Regions from separate parts of the Homo sapiens genome. Here region 2 is linked to region 1. A link means that fine-mapping ties the variant in region 1 to the expression of a gene that starts in the linked region. Tissue or cell type: whole blood. Region 1 holds a variant in brackets; the other region holds the start of a gene. Each region is shown on its reference strand, or each on the opposite one. Region 1 overlaps SENP7 (SUMO specific peptidase 7). Region 2 holds the start of LDHD (lactate dehydrogenase D).

Region 1 (16,030 bases):
CTTAAGAGACAAACGATAATTCATGCTGAAAAGGAACTCTACAAACCTGAAAGATGTGACAGTACTTGTACAAACACCTCCAACTTTGCAATACATTAAAAAAAAAAGTTATACTAGTGTGAAACCCTAGAAATGTATAAAACGTGACAAAGCCTTTATATGGTTGCCACACTTGATTGTAGGTAAGATAATTCATACTGGCAAAACTCCTACAAGTATAAAGAATGTGGCAAAACTTTTAATCTGTGCTTACACCTTATTTCACAGGAAAGCTATTACCCTTGAGAAAAATTGTCCACATATAAAGAATATGGAAAAGCCATTAATGCTAGTGATTTTTGTACACTGATTTTGTGTCCTAAAACTTTGCTGAAGTTGTTTATCAGCTGAAAGAGCTTTTGGGCTGAGATCCTATATCTAGAAAATTTATATATAATATATATAAATATATATATAGAATCCAGACATAGAATCATATCATCTGCAAACAGGGATAGTTTGACTTCCTCTCCTCCAATTTGAATGTACTTTCTTTCTTTCTCTTGCCTGATGGCCCTGGCCAGGACTTCTGACAATTAATTTTTAGGACCACTTTACAATGCTTACTGAATATTTGCAGTTCCCTACTGTTTGTAATAGTAAAATATTGGGACAATTTGAAATGACCAACAATTAAAAATTTTTAAAGACAACCCAAATATCCCAAAATAAGTAGAGGAATTAAATTAATGAAATTATGGTAAGTTACAAAATAGTACATATTATGTAATATCCCTTTGTTTTAATGTATCTATATATGTATGAAGAATATGCAACGATATATACTATACAGTGAATGGCAGTTGTCTCTAAATAGGCAAGATTATATGTGTTTGTAATATTGTTCCTTTACTAATTTGTTTGTGGTTTTTTGCTTGATCTTGGTTTTTGAGCATAACATGTCCACCTGACTGTGTAATAATATAATTAATATATTAATTAATAGAAATCCCATTGTTTAATATTTATATTGGATTTTCCTTCCCCCGGCTAATCATCACTCTCATATATTTAGGTTATCCAACTTTTTGCCATCAAAAAGAACTCAACAGAAATAACTGGGTAAACCTGAATTTAAAATAATAAAGTAAAATAGGGGAGAAAATCCTGAAAAATGAATAAAATTCCTTAAAGAAAAAGAATTGTAAAATCACCCCAGACATGCCAAAATCAGTTAAAACCAGTGGCCAAAAAAATGTTAATTTTAATTCATTCTTGAGCTTTCGAAGCAATGGTGACTGTATCACAAACTACTATTATTTGCAGTTCCCAGAATTTGGGATTAGGTCTTTGTCTGCATGGGTACCAAGTAAACAACAGGTACTTCATGTCTTATTCATGTGCTGTCTTCTCTGTGAAGCCTTTCCTGATTCCTCCAGACATTGATAGATATCCATTGCCATATGCACCCTTCTTGTACATATTTCTGTTTTATATTTTACCATAATGTAAAGTAAATATTTATGTGTCTGTCTCTTCCATTAGATTAAAAGCTCCCTGAAAGCAGAAACCATATCTTAGCATTTTTATATTCTCTGCCTTATCCCTAACACAGTGAAATATGAATGAAACTGCTATAAAAAATGCCTGAGTTACTAAATCTGACACAGTCACTTCAACAAACATTTAAGTGCCTGCTTAGAGTGGAAACATTTATGGAAGCTATAAAAGGAACTAAAACTGTGGCTCTTCACCATAAGCAGCTTAAAAGGTTAATGGAGAAGTTTATATAAGAATATAGGTAATTATAAAACACACAGAATAAATCTTAGAAGTCAAATGAAGTGTTATAAGTGTATAGCAAAGGGAGAAGTTAATTCCGTCTAAAAAGGAGGGATTAGGGAAAGTTTCCTGGAAGAGTCAGTATATCAGAGAAGCTTTAAAAGATGATTAGGATTTTAAAAGGTCAAAATGGTAAGAAAATATAGAGAACTGGCTGGGCACAGTGGCTCACACCTGTAATCCGAGCACTTTGGGAGGCTGAGGCAGGTGGATCACTTGAGGCCAAGAGTTCAAGACCGGCTTGGCGAACATGGTGAAGCTCCATCTCTACCAAAAAATACAAAAATTAGCCAGGTGTGGTGCCACGCACCTGTAGTCCCAGCTACTCGGGAGGCTGAGGCACAAGAATCGCTTGAATACAGAAGGCAGAAGTTGCAGTGAGCCAAGATCAGTGGAGTGCGCCCCTGCACTCCAGCCTGGGTGAAACAGTGAGACTCTGTCCGCCCCCCCAAAAAAAAAAAATAGAGAACCGAGTAGAATCCAGTCTCACTTTCATATACAGTGGGTGAGGAGGAGTATTTTCTTTTTTAATTAGAAAAACAGCGTAGGATTAGTTCCTGGATATCCTTAATTTAGAAATTTGGAGAAGTCAGTTTACAACCGTTTAAACTGGTAAAACAAGATTTCTTCTTTATGCTCCAAACTATACCTTGAAAAAAATTTTACTTTACCATCAAATAACTTTTAGAACCCAAAGATTATCAATACATGTGATTTTTTTTCACACATGATTTTCATTAGAGTAGTCAGATTAGGTAGGATTTTAGGAGGGGAGAATGAAAGACACATTTCAAATTAGGTATAATGACTTTCAACATATCCAAAGTGTCCCATATAAAATAAATCTTAATTCTATTCTTATTTGTGCTAAGAAAAAAAAGGAAAAAAATTAAAATGCCTTGTCCAAGATCCAAACTAAAAGAAAATTAAAGAAAATATACTTACTGTAACACAACCTTTAGAAGCTCCTTTTATTTTACCAATATAAACAGAAGTAAATATAAAATCCAGTTGTAGATCCATCTCATTACTAGGCATAATACTGGAAATGTTCTCCATGACAGGATTATATGGGCATAATTCAGATGACATCTAACAAGGAATAAATCATAAAATGCATATAATTCTTAAGTACTATATAAATGCTGAAAATGACTTTCACCATCAAATTCTTCTTTAAATTACTATTAGTGAATTTTTGAAGAACTTTATACTGTTCTTACTGTGAAGAAATAGCTATCTAGATTTTTTTTCTGAAAAAATATATGACTTACCTTTGAGAAAATTACACTAAATAGCTGAATCCAAAATTAATTCCACAGCCTAAGCTCCAGAAATATATACTCCTCTGTATCAAAGCCATGGTTTCACATTCAATAGTCTCTAATAGGTTTTATTCATTTTTAACTTGACAGAAGAAAGTTTTAAACATATATTGTACTTTTGTTTAAAATAGGTTTTTAAATATATTATCTCTTTTAATCCCCACAACCACCCTATAGGCAGGTTTTTCAGTTTCCCATTTCATAAATAAAGTTAACAGATGTTTAGATTGGTTAAGCGACCTGCCTAAAATCATGCGATTAGTAAGAAGCAAAACAAAGATTCAAATGCACGTTTCTCTCTCCAGGTCCAGTGTCACTTCAACCACATAAAATTGTTTCCATTAACCAAAATAATGTTCTTGCTACTGCACTTTAAAATTTTTTTATTTTAGATTCAGGGGGCATATGTGCAGATTTGTTACAAGGATAATATTGCGTGATGCTGAGGGTTGGGCTTCTATTGAACCTGTCACCCAGATAATACCCAACAGGAAGTTTTATGGCCCTGGCTCTCCTCAACCCTCCCCCTACTTTTGGAGTTTCCAATGTCTATTGTTCCCATCTTTATGCCTGTGTGCTACTGCACTTTTAATATGCCGTGAAGGAATGTAAGTACCTAAGAACCATCTGTTATCTCAAATTTATATGCTTTATTGTATACTCTATGTTTGAAGACAACCAACCAGAAATGGCTTATACTTGCCTAAAACCTCAAAAATCATATCACTTCCACTCAAGTGACTATATAACTTTGCTTTTAAATTATAATAGAAAACCAGGCAATATCAGCAGCAACTCTTTCCCACTGTTTCTTCTGAAATTTACACTACTTTCAGATGACTTTTTCAACTTTTTCAAATGTGCCTAACCTCTGCACATTATCCGTAACATCACACATTACCAAACAGATTACTACTAAAGCAGTTATTATGCATATGTACTCACTCCCCTCTTACCTCTCGCAAATGTGACTAATCCTTATCTAAAACATATATCATACTCATTATTTTAAACCCAGCTCATAACGCCATTTACCTGCTTAATTGAATTTCTTTGTCATTCTCATGTTTTATTGCTTAGTATACTATTAATATCTTCTTATTCCCTAAGTAAAAAAGGGAATCAATCAATCAAATCAAATCAGGTAGCTCCAACATCAGTCAGACAAATAACTGTGGGCTTTTTTAGTGATAAAATGAGAAGTTGGTATAGAAATAATTTCTCATTGGGTTTCACATTTTGTAAAAACTAGCTGGCTCCTAAAAATGACCAATCCATATTTCTCATAATTCATTTAAAACTGGAACAAGAGAGAGCATAGAGATGTGGCATTCTGCCTTATATGTCTTTGTAGATCTCCACAGTATTGGCTGCTTGGTTGTGATTATGAATGTAGTAAATTCCACAAGATATGTTATTTTCTTATAATATGATCATTTCATACTACATTGTCAATTTATACCCTGCCAAGACCTAATTCTTCTACAAGTTTAAATTCATTATCAATAATGACACTTTTAATTATATATACAACTAAACCATCAAGTAGGATATTGACCCCATCTGGTAAAAATGGTTACATTTTTGCAAAAATTCAGAACAAAGCTGCTGAGGTGATTTCTACGTGGAATACCAAATACAAAAGAAAATACCCATGAAACAATAATCAGACCAAACTGTTTTCATAGATCGGGCCAACTCTTCACCATACTCTGCAAAATAACAGCCTCTGACATTATTCAAAAACAAAACAAGATAAGTTTACCATAATTCTGCACTGGTGGTCAATGATCTTTTCTTACAAATAGAATAATCACAGACTAATAATAAGAAAGAGTACCAGCTGGGAGCGGTAGCTCATGCATGTGATCCTAGCACTTTGGGAGGTGGAGGTAGGAGGATTGCTTGAGCCCAGTAGTTAGAGACCAGCCTGGACAACAAAGAGAGACCCTCATCTCTAAAAATAGTATATATTTTAAAAACATTAGCCAGGCTTGCTGGCATGAGCCTATGGTGCCAGCTACCTGAGAGGCTGAATGAGAGGGATGCTTGAGCCCAAGAGGTTGAGGCTGCAGTGAGCCATGATCATGTCACTGCACTCCAGCCTGGGTGACAGGGCAAGACCTTGTCTCAAAAAGAAAGAAAGAAAGAAAGAAAGAAAGAATACTGATAATAAATGATTTGAACCTTATTTTAGACCTACTCTCTTCAAAGGACTGAATTAATCGACTGATATTAAACTAACACACTTCCATTTATGATTTTCTATAAGAATGAAGAGGCAGAGGACTTACCAAACTTGATAGGTTTCTGACCTATATCTCCAAAGCCATGTTCTTTCCTCTATATCATACTGCCTTCATAGTATGTGAGGAAAAGGAGTAATTCCAAGTAGCCATAATACTCCAAGACCAGACATATAAATACTAGAAAATGTGTTTAATTCTACAAAATGTTAGTGAAATGTCCAATGAAAGCCATAAAAAAAGAAAAATATTCAAGTAATAGACTATTCAGACTGAAAAATATAAATCACCAGAAGAAAATGGCATAATCTTTTCATTTCAAAATAAAGACAACTACGTATTTCACTCAAACTACTATAAAAGTTGTCTGAAAATTCAAACTAAGAAAATTTGTAATTTTCATTACAATATTCAGCTTGATAAAACAAATAACAGTCATTAACCAATAGTGTACATTTCATTGTTAATCTATGAGAAGACAGAAATAAATTACCTGTACAGATTCACATGTAATCAATGGTAGTTCTAACAATGCTGATTCAGAAGTACTCTCATTTTCATTAGTTGTCTCACGGTCTTGCTTAGATTGTAACTTAAGAATTTCTGAACTTTTATGTTCAACAGGTCCTTCTTCATCACTGGAAACAACAACTAAAACGGAAAAGAAAAATGTATTTTTGTTTATTTATTTATTTATTTATTTATTTTTTGAGACACAGTCTCCCCATCTCGGCTCACTGCAACCTCCACCTCCCGGGCTCAGGCAATTCTCCTACCTCAGCCTCCCGAGTAGCTGGAATTACAGGCATGCGCCACCATGCCCAGCTAATTTTTGTATTTTTAGTAGAGACAGGGTTTCACCATGTTCGCCAGGCTGGTCTCAAACTCCTGACCTCAGGTGATCCTCCTGCCTTGGCCTCCCAAAGTGCTGGGATTATAGGTGTGGGTCACTGCACCCAGACGAAAAATGTATTTTAAATGTGTAACAATCACATATCAAAAAAAGAACTTTTGGCCGGGAGCAGTGGCTCACTCCTGTAATCCCAGCACTTTGGGAGGCTGAGGTGGGTAGATTCCCTGAGGTCAGGAGTTCAAGATCAGCCAGGCCAACATGGTGAAACCCTGTCTCTAGCAAAAATACAAAAATTAGCCGGGCATGGTGGTACATGCCTATAATCCCAGCTACTTGGGAGGCTGATTAAGGAGATTACTTGAGCCCAGGAGGGGGAGGTTGCAGTGAGCCAAGATCGCACCACTGCACTCTAGCCTGGCCGACAGAGAGAGACTCTGTCTCAAAAAAAAAAAAAAAAAAAAAAAGAACTTTCTAATTAATGCAATTTATTTTTAATAATCCTGTTAAACTGAATCATCTAAATTTATTCAATTTAGAAACAGGCCTATCAGTTGTTATCTGATTTA[T/C]AGTAGTTACAGACAATGACTCTATATCAGCGCAATTATTCAGCAGTTACCTGTACCCTTACCTTCTAAAGAATAAAGATGTTTAAAAATGGATAAAGCCATGAGGAGGCCTTAGTAACAAATTCTAGTTCTAACAGTGTATTGTGCCATCACTCTAAATTGTACTTTTAAGTCCTGTTACATGAATTGCTTCAAGGAATGGGAAATTAATAACTAGGGGAAGATGTGGGCGAGTATTCACTGGAGATCCTTTAAAACCTTTGGAATTTCTTTGTACCATGTGATGGCATCAACTACTCAGAAGCTGATTAAATGAAAATTAATGATAATAATCAGATAGCACTTAAACTCTGCATAATTCATCAACCAAATGACAGTAATGATGGTCTTTAAATAATCTATTTTAAAACTATTGAGATGACAGTGTACTTACTAATCTAAGAAAAAAATTACTTCTGTTTTCAAGTCCTCCATTAGTTTACCTAAATCGATATTTTAAAACTCATGAAGGAGACCCCAAACCCCAAGCCCTTTTTTCCTAAAGTTAATATATTCCACAATGATGTCATAAACAGCTTATGGCCTTAGCCAAATTTGTTCAAGAAGAATAAAAAAATAACTAAGTAAAGCAGAGGAAATTAAGTAACTTTATAATCCTCCTGTCACTTACTTGGTTCAGCTGAGATCAGTGATTGGTTCCCTTCATTATGTCCTCTTAGAATAGGCTTTTCTATGGTATTCAACTCATTCTCATCCTTCTCAACCAGGGAAGAAATCCCCACAATATCAATGGAATTAGAGTTCTCAACGGTTTCAGTGGTTGAACCGGCAGAGGCACTTTTGGTGGCATTACTCAAAGTCAACTCCTGACTGTTAAGTGAGGATAGTTTAGTAAAATCACTTTTTGTAGGTTTAGTTGTAATTTCTTCAGGCAGTTTTGGATCCTGATGATAGTTTTCACTTGGCTTTTCAAACTCAGTGGATATTGTTGAGTCATCTTCTTGTTTTTTCTAAACATAAACACATAGAAAAAAATAGCATTTTTCAAATTTGGCTTGCTTAAACCATTTTTAAATTCCTAAAAAAAAGTAAAAATATTATATCACTTCTATAACTACATGGATAGAAAACTAAACAATTATACTACATTATACTTGCCAATGTCTCCCAAATTTAAAGATACAGGATTTGGTCTGTCCAATCTGATGCCTGATAATTTTTTAAAGGGTGAAATTGGGAGATTTCCATCATTACAAATGCTTTGTCAGACGGTCTCCCATGATCTAAGTCAACTTTAGAATGAGAAGATGTATTTACATATTTTTATTTTGCAAAAGTAATAATGCCAATGTGACTACTTTGGTAAAACTACTTTGGTAAAAAAATTTAAAAATCAACAATATAACAACATTAAAAATTATGAAAATCAACCACTGCCTTCAATATCTCATTTACTATATAAATCTGAATCATGTTTATAATTACAACCCAAAAACATTACAAGGTCCTGAAATGATTTATGGATCAAAGAAATTGAAAAGCTGTCTTACTGTTTTATTGCTACTTATATACTAAGTCTTTGAAAATAGAAAATGTATGTATTTAATATGATAATTCTTTACTTAGAATAAATTCCCTAAACTCTAGATAAACAGAAGCTTAAAGAATTTGATAAGTAAATTGCTACTGATAAAATAAATCTAATAATAATTTTACAGAGCAAGCAAAAAAAAATGACTAGACAGTATGAATAGTATTTGGCTGAAATAAAGAAAAAGAAAAGTCTGAAGGATGTACAACTACCTACTAAGGAAAGAGCGATACAAGAAAATAAGCAATTTTAACTTTTTTAATCATTCATAGTATTTGAAATGTGTTCCAATAACTCTGTATCACCAAGAAAAGTTACATTTAGAATTGTTTTTTAATAATAAAGCTAACAGTGAACCAAAAACTAAAGAAATCTCATAATAAAAGCTGAAAGCTAGAGGAACATTATTTGGCCACAGTCAACTCGTTTTTATCATAGCATGAAATTATTTCCTATAATATCTAAATACCTCTACTTACTGTCTGTTCTGTTGACTTATCCAAAGAAGTACAATATTGAGAATCAGGTAAATTATTTCTAAGCCTTCTCTTTGTCTTCCTGGAAATCAGAGTGAGTTCCACTTTTGAATCAGAATATTTAACATCCTTGTTTCTGCTTTCCTGTTCGAGATGATCACAACCTCTACTTCCACTGTTAAGGTCTTAAAAAACAAATGAAGCATAAATATGGACAAAAAAGTATAGAGAGAATCTCTTTTAGAAAAGCTCGAAGTAACATCATCAGGATTGCTATACTACTTCCAAAGCTCATTAAAACAGAAATGTACTGTTAAATTCTCATACTGACACTGGATGAAGGTAAAGGCATGCCCTATTTTAATTGGTATATACCAAGTAAATGTTCATTATACAATAGTTGTGAGGTGAGAAAAATATATAAAGAAGAAATATCCTTTTTCATAGTAGCCAAAGCAAAGCCACCAAACTGTTTTTCCATTTGCTATAAATGCATTTGGCTGTACTATCAAAAAAAAAAGGGGATTAAGAAAATGTGGCCCATATACACCATGGAATACTATACAGCCATAAAAAAGGATGAGTTCATGTCCTTTGTAGGGATATGGATGAAGCTGGAAACCATCATTCTCAGCAAACTATCACAAGGACAAAAAACTAAACACCACATGTTCTCACTCATAGGTGGGAACTGAACAATGAGAACACTTGGACGCAGGAAAGGGAACATCACACACTGGGCCTGTTGTAGGGTGGGGGGTGGGGGGAGGGGGGAGGGATAGCATTAGGAGATATACCTAATGTGAAAGATGAGTTAATGGGTGCAGCACACCAACATGGCACATGTATACATATGTAACTAACCTGCACGTTGTGCACACGTACCCTAGGACTTAAAGTATAATAATAATAATAAAAAAGGGGGGGTCTTATTAAAATCCAGAAAATTCATGTCTTAAAGTTTGATAATTCAATGTGACTTTATAAACTAAGTCTTTTAAAATGTAATTTACATAAATACATATTTTTAGTGGAAAGGGACTATAATTTGAAAGAGTGTTGATCACTGCTCTTTAAAAGGAGACAAAATACCTTTGCTCTGTAGTTGGCTATAATATGTGATCATTCACAAGGTTACCAATTTACTTGCCAGTTTATTTCTTCTTTTCAATAATCAAGACCCTGTCATTTTAAGTCTCCAATAAATCCATCATTCTAGAGAAGTACTTCCTTTTTTAAGTCAACAAGACATCATTTTGAAACTCATGCCAATCATTACTAAAAATATTTAATATTTGTTATCAAATATATGTACTGTACAAAAATACCTTCCAAAAGTTTCCACCTAATTGACTAAAAGTTATCCTGAATTATTTTGCTTTCTGAATCTATGTCATACAAGTACCAACTCAAAGTTTATACACAGCAAGTCACAAAGCAGTTGCCTTTAATTCACAATTTTCAATTCATCTGACTGGCCTGACTTTTCCATTCACGGAACGTTCTTCAACACCATACATCTTCTCTTCAAACTATTCTTGCTTTTACTGTAGCTTCAACAATTCCTAATAACTAATATTCATGATAATTTGTCTTTGACATTACTTAAAGGAAGGCACTGGAACAGGATTGAGGGTAAAAATTCCAAGATAGTCAATCGCCTTTCAATTTCCAGAGAAAACACCTTACTCCCTAAGGAAAATAAAACTCCCCCCAAATCATCAACACAATATTTAGGATAGCACATTAAATTTTATATGTAATATTGTAAACTATAAAAGTGGTCTAATACAATTTCTACACACAATGTATCAAACTATAATTTCTAAACATAAATATTATACTACAGTAAAATGATTCATGAAAGGAAAGGGGCTTGAGAAAAACTTGATTATACAGGAGTTTTCTTTTAAACAATTTATTATTTGCATATCAGTCAAGCCTGTCTCATGGAAAAAGGAATAACTTTATTATATAGAATGAAATATTGTAAAAATAGAATTCCACCTGCATAATATATAATTCAACCTGCAAATATTACTAGCATATAAAACTAAAGAGGTGACAAAATCCTGTAAACAAAAGAATACTAAGTATTTCCAAGGTATTATGTTGGTGAAAGCAAATTCCACAAGGCAAACTTAATGTGCTATGGAAAAAAATGGTACACCTAAGATTTCATTCAGAATTTCCATTAATTTACAGGTTTTTAAAAAATAACTGGTATCAGATGTAGGAGAGTAAACACTGCTTTAATAAAGATTCAATAGCTAATTGTATTAGAAACACTTTCCCTACCAGTAGTGGTACCTTCAGGGATACTGAAAAACTAAAAAATGTTTCTTTTGTCATGTACTCTTCCCTGATGCATGTCTAAAATGCCACTGTGATCTTGAGGTAACACTCCTGGGTACAAATCAGAAAGTATTTTATTCAAGTCAATGTGAGGACTGTTAGTCCTCACATTCTACTGCTTTCCTGGGTAGAGTAGGAATCTTTGTCTTGATAGTACCTGAACTGAGCCCACTTGTACAAATACTTACATTTTTACTTGGTAATCAATACAGTCATCCCTCAGTATCCTCAGGGGATTGGTCCCAGGGACCCAGGATACCAAACTCCATGGATCCATAAGCCCCTAAAGGTATAGTATTTGCATATAACCTATATACATTCTCCTGTATAGTTTAAATAATCTCTAGATTACTTATAATACCCAATACAACATAAATGTTATGTAGTTGTTATATGTATTTTTTATGATTGTATTATTTTTATTGAAGTTTTTTTCAAATATTTTCCATCTTTGCTAGGTTGAATCTACAGATGCAGAACACAAAGATACACAGAGATGATTGTAATTACTTCTAAGAAAAGTACAGTTTATAAGAAAATAAATGTTTTTCATTATACACTGACAGTGACTAATTGGAAGCTTGTCTGAACAAAGTCACAGCACATTCTCCAAAGACTGCCTTTATAAGAGTTTCAGCTGGTTTCTTGTACAAATAAAAGTTATTACTGTAGTTTCATTTTAAATTTTTTTCTATTAAAAAGGCTACTAAAAAGAATCTTTAAATAGCTGTGCTCCAAATGAAGTGTAATGAATTTTTGCACAGCATCATCAAAAGATTTTTTTGTATTGTGAATAACTTATGAAATCACTCAAAAATAAAACAGTGGCCAAGCGCGGTGGCTCTTGCCTATAATCCCAGCATTTTGGGAAGCCGAGGCAGGCAGATCACTGGAGCCCAGGAGTTTGAGACCAGCCTGGGCAACACGGCAAGACCTTGTCTCTGCAAAATACAAAAAATTAGCCAGGCGTGGTGGTGCATGACTATAGTCTCAACTACTCGGGAGGCTGATGTGGGAGGATCACTTGAGCCCAGGAGGTAGATAGAGGCTGAAGTGGGCTGTGATCATGTGTGATCATGCCACTGTACACCAGCCTGGGTGACAGAGTGAGGCCCTGTCTTAAAAAGAAAAAGAGAAAGAGAAAAGCAAGAAAGAAAGCAAGCAACAAAGAGACTTCAACAACATTTGAAGCTATCAATAATCCAACAGACCCCTAAAGGTGTTAGTTTCACAAATAAATAATGTAGTAAAATTGTTTTTCTTCAAGTATCAGTAAAATATTTTTAATTCTTGAAAGAGAGGCAAAAAAGAAAAAGAAGTCGAATCATAAATCCTATATGCAAGGAGGCCTACAAAAAATTTTCACAAGTCTAGGAAGTATTTACCTTCAAATTTGCTAATAGTGGCTTGTTTGGCATCCTCCTGAAGTTGAGAGAAATTCTAATGAATAGAGAATGTATTTCATGGTAGGCAAATAGACAGTGATTAGCTAATAATAAAAACCCAGTTAGCAGTAACATTAATATCCATGGAAACAACACTTAGAAACAGCTAAATGAACATAACTTCATAGCTATATCCAAGTCTCCCCAAAGAAGAAAAAAATATATTAAAATTTAACTTTTGGGATTAGTAAATAAATCTAGAAATGAGTACTACGCTACATAAAGAGTAGGTTTAGCAATTTTATTTGTGTTGCCAAATAATCTCCCTTTACTTTCACATATCCTTTCAAAGTAAAATAAAATAATTTATTTATAACAAAAATTATTATTAATACAATAAGAAAAAATTCAAATTCCAACAGTTTTCTAAGGTTCACAAACCTTCAGGCTGAGTATCAGATATTAAAAGAGAAATGCCATCATCCTTTCTTCGTTTTTCTTTATTGTGCGCAGTCTGCTTTGCAGAATTGTCATCTACTGTCTTACTTCGTTGTGAGCCCCTGCAAAAGAGAACTGTATTATACTCAATTCTAATAAAGCCCAAATGAATTTAGAAGCCAACTAGCATGTATTTAAAAATCCAACACATTACAAACACAGTCCCACATGGCAGACTATAAGATCTGGGTAGTAAAAAAAATATTGAACTCAGATTTAAGAAATAAGTTATCCTCCCTTTTCTACCTTTAAATTCCCCATGTGTGTTTAGGGGGAAAAAAAATGAGATATCAACATTGGAGGATTGTGTACATGCAAAATGAGCAAAAGAGTAATACTATACAAGTATTAAATTAGGTTTAAAAAGTAAAATTCCAAGGACACAAGTACCTCAATAATTAAACCTATGTATAGGCAAACAATTATAAGCCAAAGCTGAATGTTAATATATTTCAAGCGTGGTTCATATACCAAAAGTATGGTAACAAATTTTCAGTAGTATGTGGTAATAAATTTTACCTACAGAGAAAATAATTTAAAGTCTAAGGTACTGGTAAAATAACAAATTTTGGAATGATAGTCACAATGTTACTACTAAGGAAAATTTAGAAATATAAAACATACTATAATGTATAAGTGCATACATATGAAACAAAATATAAAAACTTAGACTGGAAGGATTCAAGCCTATTTGGGTAGTAGATAACTCTAAAGAGGGAGAGTATTAGAATCAGGGAATATAAAATAAATAAGTTTTCAACTTTCTATAATACTTCTTTAAAAACAAATTTAAATCTGAAAAAATAGGAATTATATTGGTTAAATCTGAGTGATATGTATTGGCATATTATTCTCTATACTTATGTACATATTTGAAGTATTTCATAATTTTAAAATATATAAATTATTTACAACTAAGGCAACTAGTATAAGTCAAAAACAAGGACTATAAAGACCAATTACACGTAATGCTTCCTTGTTTTGAGAGAATTATTTGGAAGGCTAAAAATGACTTATAAATTAAAAAAAGCTACAGTATCCAAACATCACCAGTGTAGTGTCATAGTTAAAGAAAGGGTTATTGCTGCTATTACACTGCTCATTTTCATATTTACTTTGGTAAAATTTTCTTTATTTTCAGATTGGAAATTAAAAGGCCAAAATAATCAAAATCGTAAGGGTGAGCCAATTTCACTTGCAAAGAGGTTCTGACTGAGTCAAATCATTCCACTCCTCAACCCTCAAGAATCATTCTTGAAGAATAAGGGCATCTAAGCAAATTTATACCATAGAGTTTTGTTTACTGAAAATGAAAACCAAAAGAGAAGTCAAAAAAAATTTGTCCTCCCTGAAAGAATTATCACTACAGGCACTATAAACAAAAATAAAATGTGACCTAAAAGACGATCTAAAAAGATGCTTAGGTACTTATGTTTCCCCTGATATAAGAAGCAAACAGTGTAATAGTCCTTGTTTTTCTAGCACAATGAACACTGAAAAACAAAATAAGATTTCACATGTAAATCACATTAAAAGTTATATGGTTGTAGAAAAAAGACTTTATAACAGAGGATTTTCTTGACTAAACGCTAAGCATTAAGTAGTTGGCATGAAACCAAAAATAAAAATGAGTATTTTCAAAAGGTAATGTCATATGATTCAAATGCACAACAGTGAAGCCAAACACATCTGTAATATAATCTCAATCCAAATAACAGTTTTTTGCAGAATATGACAATCTGGTTCTAAACTGTACATGGTGGAAAGTCACGTGTTTAAAGATAAGGACAGCAATGTTCAAACACTGTTAGCTTCCATCCTCTTATAAGAAAAGGAAATGAATGGACTGGAAACACCCAAGTTCCTGAACAAGAAATATAAATATTCACATTATTCAAGTTAACAAGTAAATGTAATAAAAGCTCAAAATAAATATTTTCCAATGCAACAAAATTCTAAGAATTTTTTTAAATAGCCAAGCAAATATACTTTAAAATTATAAAAATGTATTAAAATAGCGTGGTACTAGAATAAAGAGAGACATATCGACCATAGAAATAGAAAACAGAACCCAGGAACAAACTTTCAAATATATGCTCAAAAGATTTTTGACAAGGATGCTGAAACCATTCAATAGGGAAGGGACAGTCTTTTCAATAAAGGGTGCTGTGAACATAGGATAGTCATATGCAAAAGGAAGAAGTTGGACAGTTATCTAACACCATCTACAAAAATTAACTCAAAGTGGATCAAACACCTAAATATAAGGCAGAAAACTATAAAACTCTTAGAAGAATGCATAGGGGAAATCTTTATGACATTAGATTTGGCAGTGATTTCTTTGATATAACAACAAAAACACAGTCAACAACAAAGATAAATTGGAGTTCATTAAAATTGAAAACTTATGGCTGGGCATGGTAGTTGACGCCTGTAATCCCAGCTACTCGAGAGGCTGAGGAGTGAGGATTGCTTGAGGCCAGGAGTTCAAGAACAGCCTGGGGAACATAATTCATTATGGGGTTTCACCCCACCCACACACACACACACACAAAATTTAATAATTAGCTGGGCATGATGGTATGCCCCTGTAGTCTTAGCTACTCAGGAAGCTGAGGGGAGAATCACTTGATCCCAGGAGTTCAAGGTGGCAGCTACAATTGTGCCACTGCACTCCAGCCTGGGCAATAGAATGAGGCTCTGTCTCAAAAAAAAAAAAAAAAAATCAAAAATTTTTGTTTATCAAAGGACACTAGTGAAAAGACAACCCACAGAATGGGAGAAAATATCTCCCACCCACATATATATTAAAGGATTAATACTGATAATAATAAAGACCTCCTACAGCTCAACAACAAAAAATAAATAACAATTAAAAAATGGGCAAAGTATTTGAAGAGATGTTTCTCCAAAG
Region 2 (16,030 bases), not on the chromosome of region 1:
GCTGCTCTGTGCAGTAGAGTGGTGGGTTGAGGAAAGGGTTTGTGGGCCGAGCTGTGGGCCCCATCTGTACCCCAGCCCCAGCTCACCTTGCAGCCTGGCCGCGTGGCCAGGGCTGCGTACCAGGCATTGTGCCGTGCTGTCCAAAGCCGGCTGCGCTCCTCGGCCTCCTTGGCCCAGGAGAAGTCAGAGGCTCCGTTCTGCTGGACTATCTCCTCTGCAGTTGGGGAAGGGGGGCTGACACCGGGCCGCCACTGAGGCAGCCCACCCTGCTGCCCCACTCCACCCCAGCATACCTGTGCGCTGCAGCTGCTCCTCCAGTGCCTGCTGGGAGCCATGGAACTCCAGGAAGAGTGTGGGCGCCACTAAGCAATTCAGCTTGCTGTACCTGTTGCAGGCATCCATCATGACTTCATCCAGGAACTCTGGATCCAGGGAGATGGCAGGCCAGGTGAGGCCTGGCCTTCCCAGGGGGCCTCTTCCAGGGAGCCCACCCTGACTGCCCCCATCCTCAGCTCACCAATGCGGGCTACGGGCACTGCAGCCTGGAGGATGTGTACAGTGCTGTCCACAGCAGCCTGGACACTGGGGAACGCACACGTGGCGGCCACTGTGGCCTCAGGGGCAGGGTGCAGGCGCAGGGTGGTGGCTGTGATGAGGCCCAGCGTCCCCTCGGAGCCCACGAAGAGCCCCGTGAGGTTGTAGCCGGCTGCACTCTTCCTACGTCCCAGGGACACACAAGGTGAGTACCAGGCTGTGTGATGAGGGATTTCTGGCCAGAAGCCGAAGCTGGAACCCAAGACACCGACCCCAGGCACTGAGGTCTGGGCTGGCCTCCCTCGGGCCCAGTTTCCCTGGCCCAGTGCTTTCTGCTCCACAAAGCCAGTCGGCCTCAGGCAGGGAGAGCAAACCCTGGTCCCATCCACTTTGGCCCAGCTGACAGGGCTTCAGAGCCTGAGGAAGCCTAGCCTGCCAAACCAGGGGGCCGCCAGGAGGTGCTTTTCACAGCCCGGTCTCTGCAGGGCAGCCCGCCAGCAGTGCCCAGGGCCAGAGCCCGGGCCCCCCGCAGAGGGCGCTCACCGGAAATGCCGGCCTCGGCCCGCCGTGTGCAGCAGCCGCCCGTCGGGCAGCACCACCTCCAGGTTGAGCACGTTGTCCCGCATGGTGCCGTAGCGGACCGCGTTGGTCCCCGACGCCCCGGTGGCCGCCATGCCACAGAGAGAGGCGTCCGCGCCTGGGTCTGGAGGGCGGCGTACAGAAGGCAGCCTCAGGGACCGGAGGTCCTTTCCCTCGGGCTGGGGGAGGAAGGTCCCCTGAACCCCAGACACAGCCCTGCTCCCACGGTGCCCTCAGGGTCCCAGGAAAGGTTCGCGAGTCCTACCCACGGGAAACCAGAGGCCGCTGTCCCGCAGGTGGGCGTTGAGGGCTTTGCGGGTGACACCTGGCTCCACCACCACAGAGAAGTCCTCCTGGTTCAGCTCCAGGATTCGGTCCATATGCGTCAGGTTAACGCAGACGCCGCCCTGGTTGGGGCAGGTGCTAAGACCACTGCAGACCTGGGTCTCTGACCTGGCCACGTCCCCGGACCACACCCCGCGGGTGTCCCCCCAGCAGCCAGACCAGACCCCCAGAGGCAGGCAGCCCACGGGCGGGAGCAGACCCAAGGTGCCGTGTGTGGCGGGGGAGGCAGCCACAGGTGTGCCAAGGTGTGCTGGGACCATCCTCGGGCCGGGCGAGGGAGCCCCACTGTACCTGCACAGCACAGACGCCACCCTCAAGCCCGGTGCCGGTGCCGAATGGGATGATGGGCACACCTTGGCGATAGCACAGGGCTGCCAGCCGGCTGACCTGCTCCACGTTCTGGGGCCACACCACAGCATCAGGAGGTTCGCACCTAGAACCAGACCCTCAGCGATTTAGCGGGGCGTGACACCCTCTGGTCCCGAGGTGTTGCAGGGCCTGAGGCTACAGCAAGCGAGGGGCAGAGAACATGCCAGAGCACCCCAAAACAGATGAGTGAGGAGGAAGGCAACCCAGCACCCTCTCTCTCAGCTGGGGTTGAATCCAGAAGACAGGGGAGGGGCCCGCGAACCCTCCCATACCTGTGCACCGACTCATCGCGCCCGTGCTGCTCTCGGACCACCGCGGCAGTGGACACGTGGGAGCCGCCCACCACGGCCTTCAGAGCCTCTACGAAGTCCCTGCAGAGCTCTCCCTGCAGGGAAGAAACACACTGCCAGGGTCCCCCGAAAGACACATGGGGCCACAGCCCTGCCCCAGTGTCGGGGGGAGGGCTGGGGGCTGGAGGCTGGAGTGAGCCTCCCCTGCGCCCGCCCCGCTGACAACATCCTTGCCAGGTGGGCCCACTTTAAACAAACCCACTATCCAGAAATGCCTCTTTTCCAAACAGAGCCATTGGGGGTCAAAGTTTCCCCTCAGAAAAAAACGCCACCAGAATTTTTTTAATGTTTTCTTTTTTAATAAAAACAGGGTCTTACTATGTTGCCCAGGATGGTTTCAAACTCCTGGGCTCAAGCGATCCACCTGCCTCGGCCTCCCAAAGTGCTGGGGTTACAGGCGTGAGCCACAGCGCCCAGCCATCCAAATAAAAAACCAGAATTCACTCTCCAAAAAGGCTATCAGCAGGGTTCCTTCAATAGCCAGCCCAGCCTGAGCAACCGAAAAGATCCCTCACTTCCTCCTTTCTCCAGGGCCAACCAAGCACCACCCCAGCCACAGGGAACTCAGAGCTTGATAAGGGAATTAGGGGGAGGAAAAGCTTCCACTGCCCCCTCCCCACTCTACGTTGCCTGGGGCTTCTGGGCCCTTCGTGGGGGGCGGGGCGCGGCGGGGCGGGGGATGTGTTTCTTCCCATTTTACAGATGAGAAATGGAGGCCAAGTTAAGGACAGAGCCTGGCCTGGAACCCAGGCCCTTTCCTTCAGGGCCTTCTTCCACAGGTGTGTTTTATTCCAGGGGCATCCATTTGACTCCCCCAGCCCCACTCATGGTAGCAGTGGGGACTCAGCTGATCTCACTCTACACCCACCCACAGTTGCCACAGGGTAAGCCCAGTGCCCTTTTGCCCAAGGTCAGGTCACTTGGTGCTGGGGCGTCACAGAGCCCAGGAAACTTGGGATCAGAACCCCCTGCTCCCCGCTCCCCACCTCATCCCTCCAGAGGACTTCTCTTCTCTCCCGGTACCTTTGCCTTCTGGGAGCAGTAGCCCCTCCAGGGGAACAGCTCCCAGGTTGCAGACCTGAGCAGTCGGGCCATAGCCAGGCACTGGCCAGAGGGTGTGAGCACTGGGTGGCAGGGTGACCAGTCAGCTACTGTGGCAGCAGCTACTGCTGCTGTCAGCCCATTGGCTAGGCCAGGGGTGGGGCCTGCTTAAGGTGGCACGGGCTTTAAGGTGGCCCTTGCAGATCTTGCAGACATTTTCGTGGGCTCCAGGGACGACACTTCTAAAGGAGAGGCGAGGTTCACTGGACGTTTTGGGAAACTGTAAGGCAAAAATAAAATTCTAAGCCTCCCAACCGACTGAATGGACCTCCCTCTCAGCCCAGGGCATTCCAAAATAAACCTGAAAAATTAATTCAGGCTGTGATGGGAAGAGGTTTAGGACAAGCCTCATTATCCCCCTCCTTCCTTTAGAATTCAGACACAACTGACCAGCATTAACATTAAAACAGAGACCTTAAGGCATTCTGATCTTAAGACACAAAACAGACTCTTTGTAGCAATAAGATACCAAATTCCAACCTGACTCTAGCATCACCTGACAGATAGCAGGCCCTGAAAGAAATCAATGTATTTTACCCCCAAAATATATTCCTCTGATTTTTTTTTTAAATAGCTCCAAAAAGCTGTCTTTTGTGGGGAAAATCTAGAATCTGTAGAGAATCCCCTCCCCTTTCCAGGTTTTTTGTTTTGTTTTGTTTTGTTTTGAGACAGAGTCACTCTGTGGCCCAGGCTGGAGTGCAGTAGCGTGCTGCAACCTCCACCCACTGGGTTCAAGCGATTCTCCTGCCTCAGCCTCCCAAGTAGCTGGGATTACAGGTGCCTGCCACTGTGCCCAGATAATTTTTCTATTTTTAGTAGAGACAGGGTTTCACCATCTTGGCCAGGCTGGTCTTGAACTCCTGACCTCGTGATCCACCTGCCTTGGCCTCCCAAAGTGCTGGGATTACAGGCATGAGCCACCGCGTCCAGCCTCTTTCCAGGTTTTATCCTGATCTAAGGGAGATTTAACTAAGAGTCTGGCACCTTTTAACGCCTTAGACATTTACCATCTATGTTACATAATAAGAACCTTGGGCCGGGTGCAGCGGCTCACATCTGTAATGCCAGCACTTTGGGAGGCCAAAGTGGGAGGATCACGAGGTCAAGAGATAGAGACCCTCTTGGCCAACATGGTGAAACCCCGTTTCTACTAAAAATACAAAAATTAGCTGGGCATGGTGGTACACGCCTGTAGTCTCAGCTACTTGGGAGGCTGAGGCAGGAGAATCGCTTGAACCCAGGAGGTGGAGGTTGCAGTGAGCTGAGATCGCACCACGGCACTCCAGCCTGGCGACAGAGCGAGACTCTGTCTCAAAAAAAAAGAACCTTGGTCTCCACAACTCCTTATCTTAACCCAGATGCTTATTTCTATTGATTCCAGGTTGTCTTTTTTAAAATTTTTTATTTAAAAAAAATTTTGTTGTTGTATACCAAGATTCCAAGTCTTTGGATAATAACTTCTTTCAACCAATTGAAAATCAGAAATTTTTTTTTTTTTTTGAGATGGAGTCTCACTCTGTTGCTCAGGCAGTGGCGTGATCTCAGCTCACTACAACCTCCATCTCCTGGGTTCAAGCTGTTCTCATGCCTCAGCCTCCCAAGTAGCTGGGATTACAGGAGTGCCACCATGCCCAGCTAATTTTTGTATTTTTAATAGAGACAGGGTTTCACCATGTTGGTCCAGGCTGGTCTCGAACTCCTGACCTCAAGTGATCCACCCGCCTTGGCTCCCCAAAATGCTGGGATTACAAGTGTGAGCCACCGTGCCCAGCGCCAATCAGAAAAGTCTTTGAATTCACCTATGACCTGTAAGCTCCTCCCTCAATCAGAAGGAACCAATGCATACCCTGCTTATATTGATTACTGTCTGATGCCTCCCTAAACTGTATAAAACCAGTTGTAACTCAACTGCCTTGGGTACATGTTCTCAGGACCTCCAGGGAATGTGTCACAGGTCATGGTCTTCATGTGAGTGGTGGGAAATCCATACAGGTCTACATAAAACTCAATGCTTGCCTCATCAGAAGAAAGAATTCTACTGAAGAGGTCTGAAAGGGAAATATCTTGAGCCCCCAAAATTACTAAGCTAAAGGGAAAAGTCAAGCTGGGAACTGCTTAAGGCAAACCTGCCTCCCATTCTTTCAAAGTCACCCCTCTGATCACTGAGCTAAATGCATATCTGATTGCCTCCTTTTGAGAGGATAATTAGAAACTCAAAAGAATGCAAACATTTGTCTCTTATCTACCTATGACCGGGAAGCCCCCTCCCTGTCTTTCCAGACCCAAACAATGTTCATCTTACGTATGTTGAGTGACGTCTCAAGTCTCCCCAAAATGTATAAAACTAAATTGTGCTCTGACCACCTTGGGGACATGTCATTGGGATCTCCTGAGGCTGTGTCACACCATCATCATTGGCAAAATAAACTTTCTAAATTAACTGAGACCTTTCTCAGATTTGGGGGGTTCATATTTTGGTAACCACAGAAGAATTCTGACTGGAGGCGCCCCTGACCTTTGACAAAGCTATCAGTGCTTGGTACCAGCTTGAGCTATCTTTATGGCTCAAACCAATAGGACAATTTGCTGAGGCCCGGAAGCACACCCTCCAGAGAATACCTTATCTTTCAAAATCTGGTCAAGATCTAAAGTTCATTTTGTTGTACAACTCCTCTTTTTTTTTTGGAGTTTTACTTGCTTCTAACACAAGGAAGGCAAATTTTTCCTGCTTCCATGTTGATGGAAGGCAGGTAACTCCTTTATGGTGTTTGAGCTCGCAACCAACAGGGAAGATGAGGGTTTTTCCCTGCTTCTAGGATGGTAGAGAGCAGTCTTCAGCCTGAAACCCATCCCTAGGTAAGTAACTGAATTGGGGTTTGTTTTGGCTAAAGTTAAGATTACAACCAGCTGGTCTTAATTTCTCCTTACCACTAGAAAGCTTAGTAATCATATAAATTGTGTGATCATTTGTTTTGCTTAACTGTTTTGTTGTTGTTCATTTCTCTTTTTGTTGTTCTTTCAGTCTTTTTCCCATTGGGTTTGATCAACTCTATCTGACTTGATCAAATACAAAGGAAGTCCCAAATTATGGGGAACAAGGCCTCTGAAGTGGCTAAATTCACACACACACACATACACAAAGGATGATGTGATAGGGGGTGAAAAACAGCCAGCAAAAGGAAAAAAAAAAGGAAAGATTTTTTATTTTGACTACTAAGTGGCTTTAGTTACACAACGAGGCCACCTTTTTGCTAGCCAGGCCAAACTGAAAGAGCAATGGCTGTGCTTCTGAAATAGCAGCAATTTGTCCTAGCTGAAATATGGTAATGAGATTTTAAAAGATTTTTTTAAAGGAGCTCAATGATTAAAAGTCAGCTTAATTAAAAGCTAACATCGAAGATGTGCATGTGTATGTGTGGTGTGTGTGTGTGTGCGCATGTGCGTGTGTGTGTTTGTATTTAAAAGGACTTCATGTTTTTGTTTTTGTTTTTCTCCAAGAATCTTGTCTTTTTTTGAGCGAAAGTTTTTTTCTTCTCAGTTGACTGAATTCTGTTTTCTTCATTTACTTCGGCTGTATCTCCTTTCTCTTGCACCCTCTGCTGCATGAGGGACCTAAAATAGTTTATAATAGCTGGGGTTCCTTAAAGAGAACAGAGAAGGCACCAGGCTCCCTTTAAGGGAGAAACCTGTTTTTTCTTATGCAATCCCCAGAGTGTAAACAGGCAAGTTCGTCTCGTCTCTTCAACTGCTTACTTTTGTATTGTTGTTACCTGTTTGTGGTTTTTTTTTGGGTTTTTTTTTGTTTTTTTTTTTGACTAAAATAGTTATTGCAACAGAGGTTACCCTTGGGTTTTTTTGTTTTTTGTTTTTTGTATTGTTTGTTTGTTTGTTTTGAGTCTGAGTTTCACTCTGTCGCCCAGGCTGGAGTGCAGTGGCGCAATCTCGGCTCACTGCAAGCTCCGCCTCCCGGGTTCACGCCATTCTCCTGCCTCAGCCTCCCAAGTAGCTGGGACTACAAGCGCCACCATGCCCAGCTTGTTTTTTGTTTGTTTGTTTGTTTGTTTGTTTGTTTTGTATTTTTAGTAGAGACGGGTTTCACCGTGTTAGCCAGGATGGTCTCGATCTCCTGACCTCATGATCCGCCCGCCTCAGCCTCCCAAAGTGCTGGGATTACAGGCATAAGCCACTGCACCCAGCCTACCCTTGGGTTTTTAAGGAAGACTATGGTTTAGACACTTAGAAATGTCTTTGTTTAAAAGAAGTTTTTTAAAAAGTGCACTGTAAAAGCATCACGTGTTCTAACCTCATAATAAGTGTCCCTTCTTGGAGACCCAGGATTCAGTGTGGGCTCTGCCCAGAGCTCAGAGATCCACTTAAAAGGTAGTCCCTTTATCTAAATAAAACTAGTCTCCTTATACAATCCTATGATAAATTTCTTTTTTGTTTTTTTTTTTTTGAGACAGAGTCTCGCTGTCACCCAGGTTGGAGTACAGTGGGGTGATCTCTGTACTCCAGAGAGTACAGACATAACTGGGACTACAGGCGCCCACCACCACGCCCAGCTAATTTTTTGTATTTTTAATAGAGACGGGGTTTCGCCGTGTTAGCCAGGATGGTTTCGATCTCCTGACCTTGTGATCCGCCCACCTCGGCCCCCCAAAGTGTTGGGATTACAGGAATGAACCACCACACCCGGCAAATTTCTTTAATTTTATGTTTGATTTGGCATTCATCTTTCATCTCCCTCTGGCACCATCAGACTTTTTCTCTCTGTACCTTATGATGTAAATTTTGCTATTTGATTTTCACCTGAGTTGTTTCCTTTAATATGCAAACATAAGGCTAGTTAGCTGACAACTGCCTAGGGTTGTGAAGCAGGTTATCAATAATCTGAGTGTATCCATAAGATGTACTTCTATCAGCATGCCTAATACGTCTATGTATTTATGTGTTGTGTACACAATGCTTCACTACTGAAAATGCTTAAAAGAGCTCTAATTAACTGGCTTAAGAAAATAAAAGTGCTCGAATGAAATGCTTTATCAGGAAAAAAGACTCGTCAAATATTTTTTCAAGTTTATGTAACTCAGTAAAATTATTAATAAATAAGCTAGCCTTAAAATTACTGGTAAAGTAATATTAGAAATGTCTGAAGAATTGCCAGCATACATTTTTGTTTGCATATTAATCCAGCAGTTTCATACTTATCCCTGCCAAATACTATAAGGTGTCAAAATTTCTCATAGGGGTTACAAAACTGTATACCCAGCCCAAAACAGAATGATCTTTGCTTGTGTAAGCTTGTTAGAAATGCAAAATGCTTATTCCCCAGTGCCACAAAGAAATAGCACTCAAACATAAATTTAGTTTTCTCAGCAAGGCAATTTTCACTTTCTGCAGAAAAGGTGCCCCTCGCAGATGAAACAATGGTGAGAGCACACTTGGACAGGGGAGGGGCAGGAGTTCTTATTCCTCATGCAGGTAGCCCCTACTGCTGTGTCGTTCCCCTATTGGATAGGGTTGGACCGCACAGTCTAAGCTAATTCCAATTGACTATTTTAAAAAGAGCAGGAGTACCAGCCGGAGTGGCAGGGTGAGTAGTTTAGCAGTAAGGGCGGTTACAGAACAGTTGGCTCAGGATGAATCAGGACAGAGTAGGTGACCAAGAGTGACTCAGGTCAAAGCAGGTGACCAGGGGAACAGCTGTGAACTACTGATTAGGACTGGCGGGAAAGTTGTTTACTGAAACTAGAAGCTAGGGGGCAAAGAGAACCAGGAAGCTAAACTTTAAAATGGAGAATCAAAGAATAAGAGAGCTGAACATACTGACATACTGATTCTTTGAAGAGAAACTTGGAGTTCACTATATTTAACAAATCTTTAATAAATAAGACATTAATATTGGTTTAATAAAAATAGCTACATCTTAAATTTAGTAAGATTACCATAACTTCTCATCTTGTGGCTTTAGGCAGTCCGGTCTATAGGCAATAGTGTTTGTTTTGGAAAAGCACTGTTATCATCTTTGTTTCAAAGCTAAATTATAAGTTCCTCCCAAAGTTAGTTTGGCCTATGCCCAGGAATGAACAAGAACAGCTTGGAGGTTAGAAGCAAGATGGAGTCACTTAGGTGCAATCTTTTTCACTGTCTCAGTGATAATTTTGCAATGGCAGTTCCATAATTTTAAATAATGACAAGCACAGTTTTTATAAATAATCTAGGTAAGTAATTAAAATAAAATAAGTAAATATTATAGGATAAATATAGACAAACTCATAATTTTGAATCTAAAGTTAAATAATAGAGATTTTATTATTTGGGTATTTTCCAATAAAAATATATTTGGGCCAAGTGCAGTGGCTCACACCTGTAATCCCAGCACTTGGGGAGGACAAGGCGAGTGGATCACGTGAGGTCAGAAGTTTGAGACCAGCCTGGCCAACATGGTGAAACCTCATCTCTATTAAAAATGCAAAAATTAGCTGGGCACAGTGGTGCATGCCTGTAGTCCCAGCTACTCAGGAGGCTGAGGCAGGAGAATCACTTGAACCCAGGAGGTGGAGGTTGCAGTGAACCAAGATCATGCCACTGCACTCCAGCCTGGGCGACACAGAGACTCTGTCTAAAATATATATATGTGTATATATATATATATGTGTATATATATTTGTGGAATGTTTTCCTACAAATATATATATAAGAATGTGTGTGTGTGTGTGTGTGTATATGTATATATATATATATATATATATATATATATATATATATATATATGTAGGAAAACATTCTTTTTTTTTGGAGAAAGAGTCTTCCTCTGTCACCCAGGCTGGAGTGCAGTGGTGCAGGGTTCAAGCAATTCTCCTGCCTCAGCCTCCCAAGTAGCTGGGACTACAGATGCATGCCACCATGTCTGGCTAATTTTTTGTATTTTAGTAGAGACAGAGTTTCACTATGTTGCCCAGGCTGGTCTCGAACTCCTGAGCTCAGGCAATCTGTCCACCTCAGCCTCCCAAAGTGCTGGGATTACAGGTGTGAGCCACCACACAGGCCAAAAACATTCTTTCTTAAAAAAAGTTGTGTCCCAGCCAGGTGTGGTGGCTCACACCTGTAATCCCAGCACTTTAGGAGGCCAAGGAGGATGCATCACAAGGTCAGGAAATCAAGACCATTCTGGCCGACACGGTGAAACCCTGTCTCTACTAAAAATACAAAAAAAAATTAGCTGGGCCTGATAGCACGCACCTGTAGTCCCAACTACTCGGGAGGCAGAGGGAGGAGAATCACTTGAACCCAGGAAGCAGAGGTTGCAGTAAGCCAAGATTGCGCCTCTGCACTCCAGCCTGGGTGACAAAGTGAGACTCCATCTCAAAAAAAGTAAAATACAAATAAAAAATAAGTGTGTCCTTTTGAAAAAGGTGAACAATTTTTGTCTAATTGAAAGTTTTTTTTTTTTGAGACAAGAGTCTTGCTCTGTTGCCCAGGCTGGAGTGCAGTGGTACAAAGCTCACTGCAACCTCTGCCTTCCAGGTTCAAGCGATTCTCCTGCCTCAGCCTCCCAAGTAGCTGGGATTACAGGCACCCACCACCACTCCTGGCTAATTCTGATATTTTTTAGTAGAGACAGGGTTTTGCCATGTTAGCCAGGCTGGTCTTGGACTCCTGACCTCAGGTGATCTGCCCTCCTCAGCCTCTTAAAGTGCTGGGATTACAGGCGTGAGCCACCACGCCCGGCTTCAAAGCTAATTTAAAGGTCATGTATAAAACAAGGTAAAAGGGGCCGGGCATGGTGGCTCACGCCTGTAATCCCAGCACTTTGGGAGGCTGAGGCGGGTGGATCATGAGGTCAGGAGATCGAGACCATCCTGGCTAACACGGTGAAACCCCATCTCTACTAAAAATACAAAAACAAAATTAGCTGGACGTGGCGGCAGGCGCCTGTAGTCCCATCTACTTGGGAGGCTGAGGCAGGAGAATGGCATGAACCTGGGAGGCGGAGCTTGCGGCGAGCTGAGATGGTGCCACTGCACTCCAGCCTGGGCAACAGAGCAAGACTCCATCTCAAAAAAAAAAAAAAAAGCAAGGTAAAAGGAACCAGGGAATAAAAGAGATGTAAAAAAAAGTTATAAAAATAAAGAGGTTTTTTTTTTTTTTTGGTAAGAAAGCTTAAAGAGAAATAATTTCATATGAGAAAGAATTTTGTATGATAAATTTAGTACTAAAGTAAAATGGCTGGTAGTTTAAGAAAGAGGAATGGGCTGGGCTCACTGGCTAAGGTCTGGAATCCCAACACTTTGGGAGGCCGAGGTGGGTGGATCAAAGGTCAGGAGTTTGAGACCAGCCTGGCCAACATGGTGAAACCCCATCTGTACTAAAAATACAAAAATTAGCCAGGCATGGTGGCACGCACCTGTAATCCCAGCTATTTGGGAGGCTGAGGCAGGAGAATTGCTTGCACCTAGGAAGCAGTGGTTACAGTGAGCTGAGGTCATGCCACTGCACTCCAGCTGGGACAACAGAGCAAGACTCTATCTCGAAAAAAATTTTTTTTTAATTAAAATTATCACATCCTTCTATCTGCCTGTATGTACTTTTGTTTGTTTGTTTGTTGTTTTGTGACGGAGTTTGGCTCTTGTCGCCCAGGCTGGTGTGCAATGGCACAATCTCAGCTCACTGCAGACTCCACCTCCTAGGTTCAAGAGATTTCTCCTGCCTCACCCACCCAGGTAACTAGGATTACAGGCATGCACCACCACACCTGGCTAATTTTGTATTTTTTTAGTAGAGACAGGGTTTCACCATGTTTGTCAGACTGGTCTTGAACACCTGACCTCAAGTGATCACCCACCTGGGCCTTCCAAAGTGCTGGGATTACAGGCCTGAGCCACCGTGCCCAGCTGGAAGTTGTATTTTATGATCAAGATGAAAATTTTATAAATTGTTTATAAAATTTTGGAAAACAAATTTAATTGGCTTCATGTTGTTTTTACTAGGGCTTATCATTTAAATCTCTTCTCTTAAAGAATGAAGGTTTTCAGGCCGGGTGCGGTGGCTCATGACTGTAAGCCCAGCACTTTGGCAGGCCGAGGAGGGCAGATCACCTGAAGTTAGGAGTTCAGGACCAGCCTGGCTAACATGGTGAAACCCCATCTCTACCAAAATACAAAAATTAGCCAGGCATGATGGCAGGTGCCTGTAATCCCAGTTACTCAGGAGGCTGAGGCAAGGAGAATCGCTTGAATCTGGGAGGCAGAGGTTGCAGTGAGCAGTGAGCTGAGATCAACCCCCTGAACTCCAGCCTGGGCAACAGAGCAAAACTCCATCTCAAAAAAAAAAAAAAAAAAGAATGAAGGTTTTCACTGTATTTTTTAAATCCTTGAGTTATCACTTTGGTTAAATGAATTCTTCTTTTAATTAATTAACTAATTTATTTATTTACTTTTGTGAGACAGAGTCTTGCTGTGTCGCCAGGCTGGAGTGCAGTGGCACGATCTCGGTTCACTGCAACCCCCGCCTCCCAGGTTCAAGCGATTCTCCTGCCTCAGCCTCCCAAGTAGCTGGGACTACAGGCGTGCATCACCATGCCCAGGTAATTTTTTTATTTTTAGTAGAGACAGGTTTTCACCATGTTGGCCAGGATGACCTCAATCTCTTGACCTCATGATCTGCCCACCTCAGCCTTGCAAAGTCCACCCGCCTCGACAGAGTCTTGTTCTGTCACCCAGGCTGGAGTGCAATTGTGCAATCTTGGCTTACTACAACCTCTGCCTCCCAGGTTCAAGTGATTCTCCTGCCTCAGCCTCCTGGGTGGCTAGGATTACAGGCATGCGCCACTACACCAGGCTAATTTTTGTATTTTTAGTAGAGATGGGGTTTCACCATGTTGGCCTGCTGGTCTCAAAATCCTGACCTCAGGTGATCCACCCACCTTGGCCTCCTTAAATGCTGGGGTTACAGGCATGAGCCAGCACGCCCAGCCAGTTAAATGAATTATTTTGCAATGACTTGTAATCCTATTTTGTAATATCAAGTGTTTTATACCTTTGATATTTGACAAACTTTCCAAGATAAAATTATAAATTATGTTTTTTTCTGACCTAACTAGTCTTTTAAAATGTTATTAATAGGTTCTCTAAAATCCAAAAATGACATATTTGGCTTATTTGGTCTAAAAATTATACAGGAAGCATTGTCAAATATAAAATGGTGTTTGGTTTTCTTTGGGCTGTATTCCTATAAATATGTTATTGGTATGTGTCCCAAAATTATGAGAAACTCCTATAATTCTGATCTGACTTAATGTACATTATCAGTAATAACCATAATTGTTATGTTAAATTATTGTGTGCTGCAGAAGTAACAAATTTCCTTGCCAATTGTATCTTTGACTATGGCTGCTCTAAAACTTTTTGTCATTCACGGATAATCGTCTTGTTTTGGTCCTCTTTGGTTTTACAATCAGCTATAAAACTGATTTTATAAAAGGTAGTTTTATAATCAGCTGTAAAACTCTAAAACTCTAACAGGTGCTCTTTTTTTGGGCAGGGAAAGAGTCTCCCTCTGTTGCTCAGGCTGGAGTGCAGTGGCATGATCTCAGCTCACTGCAACCTCTGCCTCCTGGGCTCAAGTGATTCTTAACTCCGGCCTGGGCGACAGAGCAAGACTCTGTCTCAGAAAAAAAGCATGAGCATGAAGAGGGAAGCATGAGGAGATCAGTCTCCCAAGTAGCTGGGACTGCAGGCATGTACCACCACGCCTGGCTAATTTTTGTATGTTTAGTAGAGATGGGGTTTCGCCATGTTGGCCAGGCTGGTCTTGAACTCCTGGCCTCAAGAGATCCGCTGGCCTCAGCCTCCCAAAGTGCTGAAATTATAGGCATGAGTCACTGTGTCTGGCCTAACAGGTGCTCTTGAATGCAGGTTTCTGATAACTTTGGAGATTGTGACATCAGCATAAAGGAAAAACTTTCAGGATTCAGGGAGGGCTGAAATGTTCATGAATATCAAGCAGAACAGGAATTAACTGCATGGACTAAACTAATAGAAGTCTGAAGTAATCTTTTTAACTTTTTGCTTAAAACATTGCTGATCTTTGTTTTGCTTTTCAGAGTCAAGAAAACTTTTAAGCTATTTACAACTTTTAACAATTGAGTTAAGTATACTCAAGAACAAAATTCAGAGCATATTTGTTTCTCTCTACCTGATTTCTACAGATTTTGGAAACTATTTGTGAGTATTCCTAACTTATGACAATACAGTTATTTGCATAAGTGCAAAAAGAATCTGTTTTCATTTGTAACAGGACACCATTGGAGAAACTAGTTATTTTTACCAAGACTTTGACCAGAACGGTGTGCTTTCCTTTAAGGAATCAAACTTCACTTATGGAGCCAATAAAAGCCCCTTGAAAAACTGGCCTCATACCTTTGTCTACACAGTCCCTGTAAAGGGTTCCTGACCTGTGGTAAGTAAAGAATGTCACTGTGGGGCCCAGGAGCCCCACGTTTATCTTGGAACCTCAAGAGGAGAAGAATTTACCCAACTCATCAGTATTTGATGGTACAAATTCATGGCTGGGCTCGGCTTTAAAAAAAGTCTTATCTGAGATTCCTTCTCTGGGACAACGTTCCATCAAAACCAGTTTAAAAGCCTGTGTAAACATTAATTATTTTTGCTGTAGTGTATACAAATAATTAGGCCAAGTACAATAAAGCAAACCAGTCCTACCATGATTTGTCTTTAGTAAAAATAGGAAACTAGAGAGAGGAAAATTATGTTTCCAAAACTATAGTAACACTCATTGTTAGATTCTAGTCTTGTCTAATATTTTTCAATTCTTATTATTATCTACAGTTTGAACCAAATTCTAATTTTTCTTGGCAACGTGTCTTCAAAATAATGTTTTCAAATTTTTCCTTCTTTTTTTCCCCATTTTGCCTAATCTGGAGTCACTGAAAACTAAGCTGTGTTTTCATAAAGCCCTGTGAACTGAAGCTGGACAACTTAAACTTCAGAAGAAAATAACAGCAACCTATTTATATTTATATACATAAGCCACTTTTTTTGTTGTTTGTTTATTTTTGAGACAGAGTTTTGCTCTTTGTGTTGCCCAGGCTGGAGTGCAATGGCACAATCTTGGCTCATTGCAACCTCCGCCTCCGGGGTTCAAGCTATTCTCCTGCCTCAGCCTCCCAAGTAGCTGGGATTACAGGAGTGCACCACCACGCCTGGCTAATTTTGTATTTTTAGTAGAGACGGGGTTTCTCCATGTTGGTCAGGCTGGTCTCAAACTCCCGACCTCAGGTGATCCGCCTGCCTCAGCCTCCCAAAGTGCTGGGATTACAGATGTGAGCCACCGCGCCGGGCCAGCCACTTTCGTATCTGTCTACTGATGTATGGACTTCGGAGTAATGTGGCCTATATCAATTTTTCAGGATTGTTCTTTTGTTTGTTGTTGTTCTCCTTTCCTCCCCCTATTTTCTCTTCAGAGGACGTGAGACTTCACAACCTTCTAAAAATGAGCTTTCCTAGCAACTAGGGACTTACCTGTCTAGGAATAAACCATCCTAGCCATGAGAGATCAGATGAAACCTGAGATCAGAGACTGATTTTCTTCTAAAATGCTTTCTCTAAAAGATTTTTAAAAAGAAAAAGGGGGAATGTGAAGGAAAATATCTTGAGTCTTCAAAATCACTAAGCTAAAGGGAAAAGTCAAGCTGGGAACTGCTTAGGGCAAACCTGCCTCCCATTCTATTC

What was found. PIP is the estimated chance that this variant, and not a neighbour inherited with it, causes the effect.
Region 2: it holds the start of LDHD, and the variant in region 1 is the best candidate, but not a certain one, in a credible set for the expression of LDHD in whole blood (TOPMed, PIP 0.53).

The regions. Positions count from the first base shown.
Region 1 is chr3:101,358,949-101,374,978 of GRCh38, forward strand. It overlaps SENP7 (SUMO specific peptidase 7), which reads right to left. Exons shown (of 24, transcript NM_020654.5): 7 at 13,060-13,178; 8 at 8,882-9,063; 9 at 7,482-7,821; 10 at 5,886-6,043; 11 at 2,767-2,913. Among named protein-coding and RNA genes, the nearest start is that of IMPG2, 46 kb to the left of the region's middle. The variant T/C (reference allele first, on the strand shown) is at 6,812.
Region 2 is chr16:75,113,449-75,129,478 of GRCh38, forward strand. It overlaps LDHD (lactate dehydrogenase D), which reads right to left and starts at 3,332. Exons shown (of 11, transcript NM_194436.3): 1 at 3,201-3,332; 2 at 2,100-2,212; 3 at 1,750-1,891; 4 at 1,379-1,520; 5 at 1,078-1,237; 6 at 518-717; 7 at 294-422; 8 at 87-214. The coding sequence starts at 3,272. It also overlaps a transcript of ZFP1 not described here. RefSeq lists an enhancer at 2,563-2,857.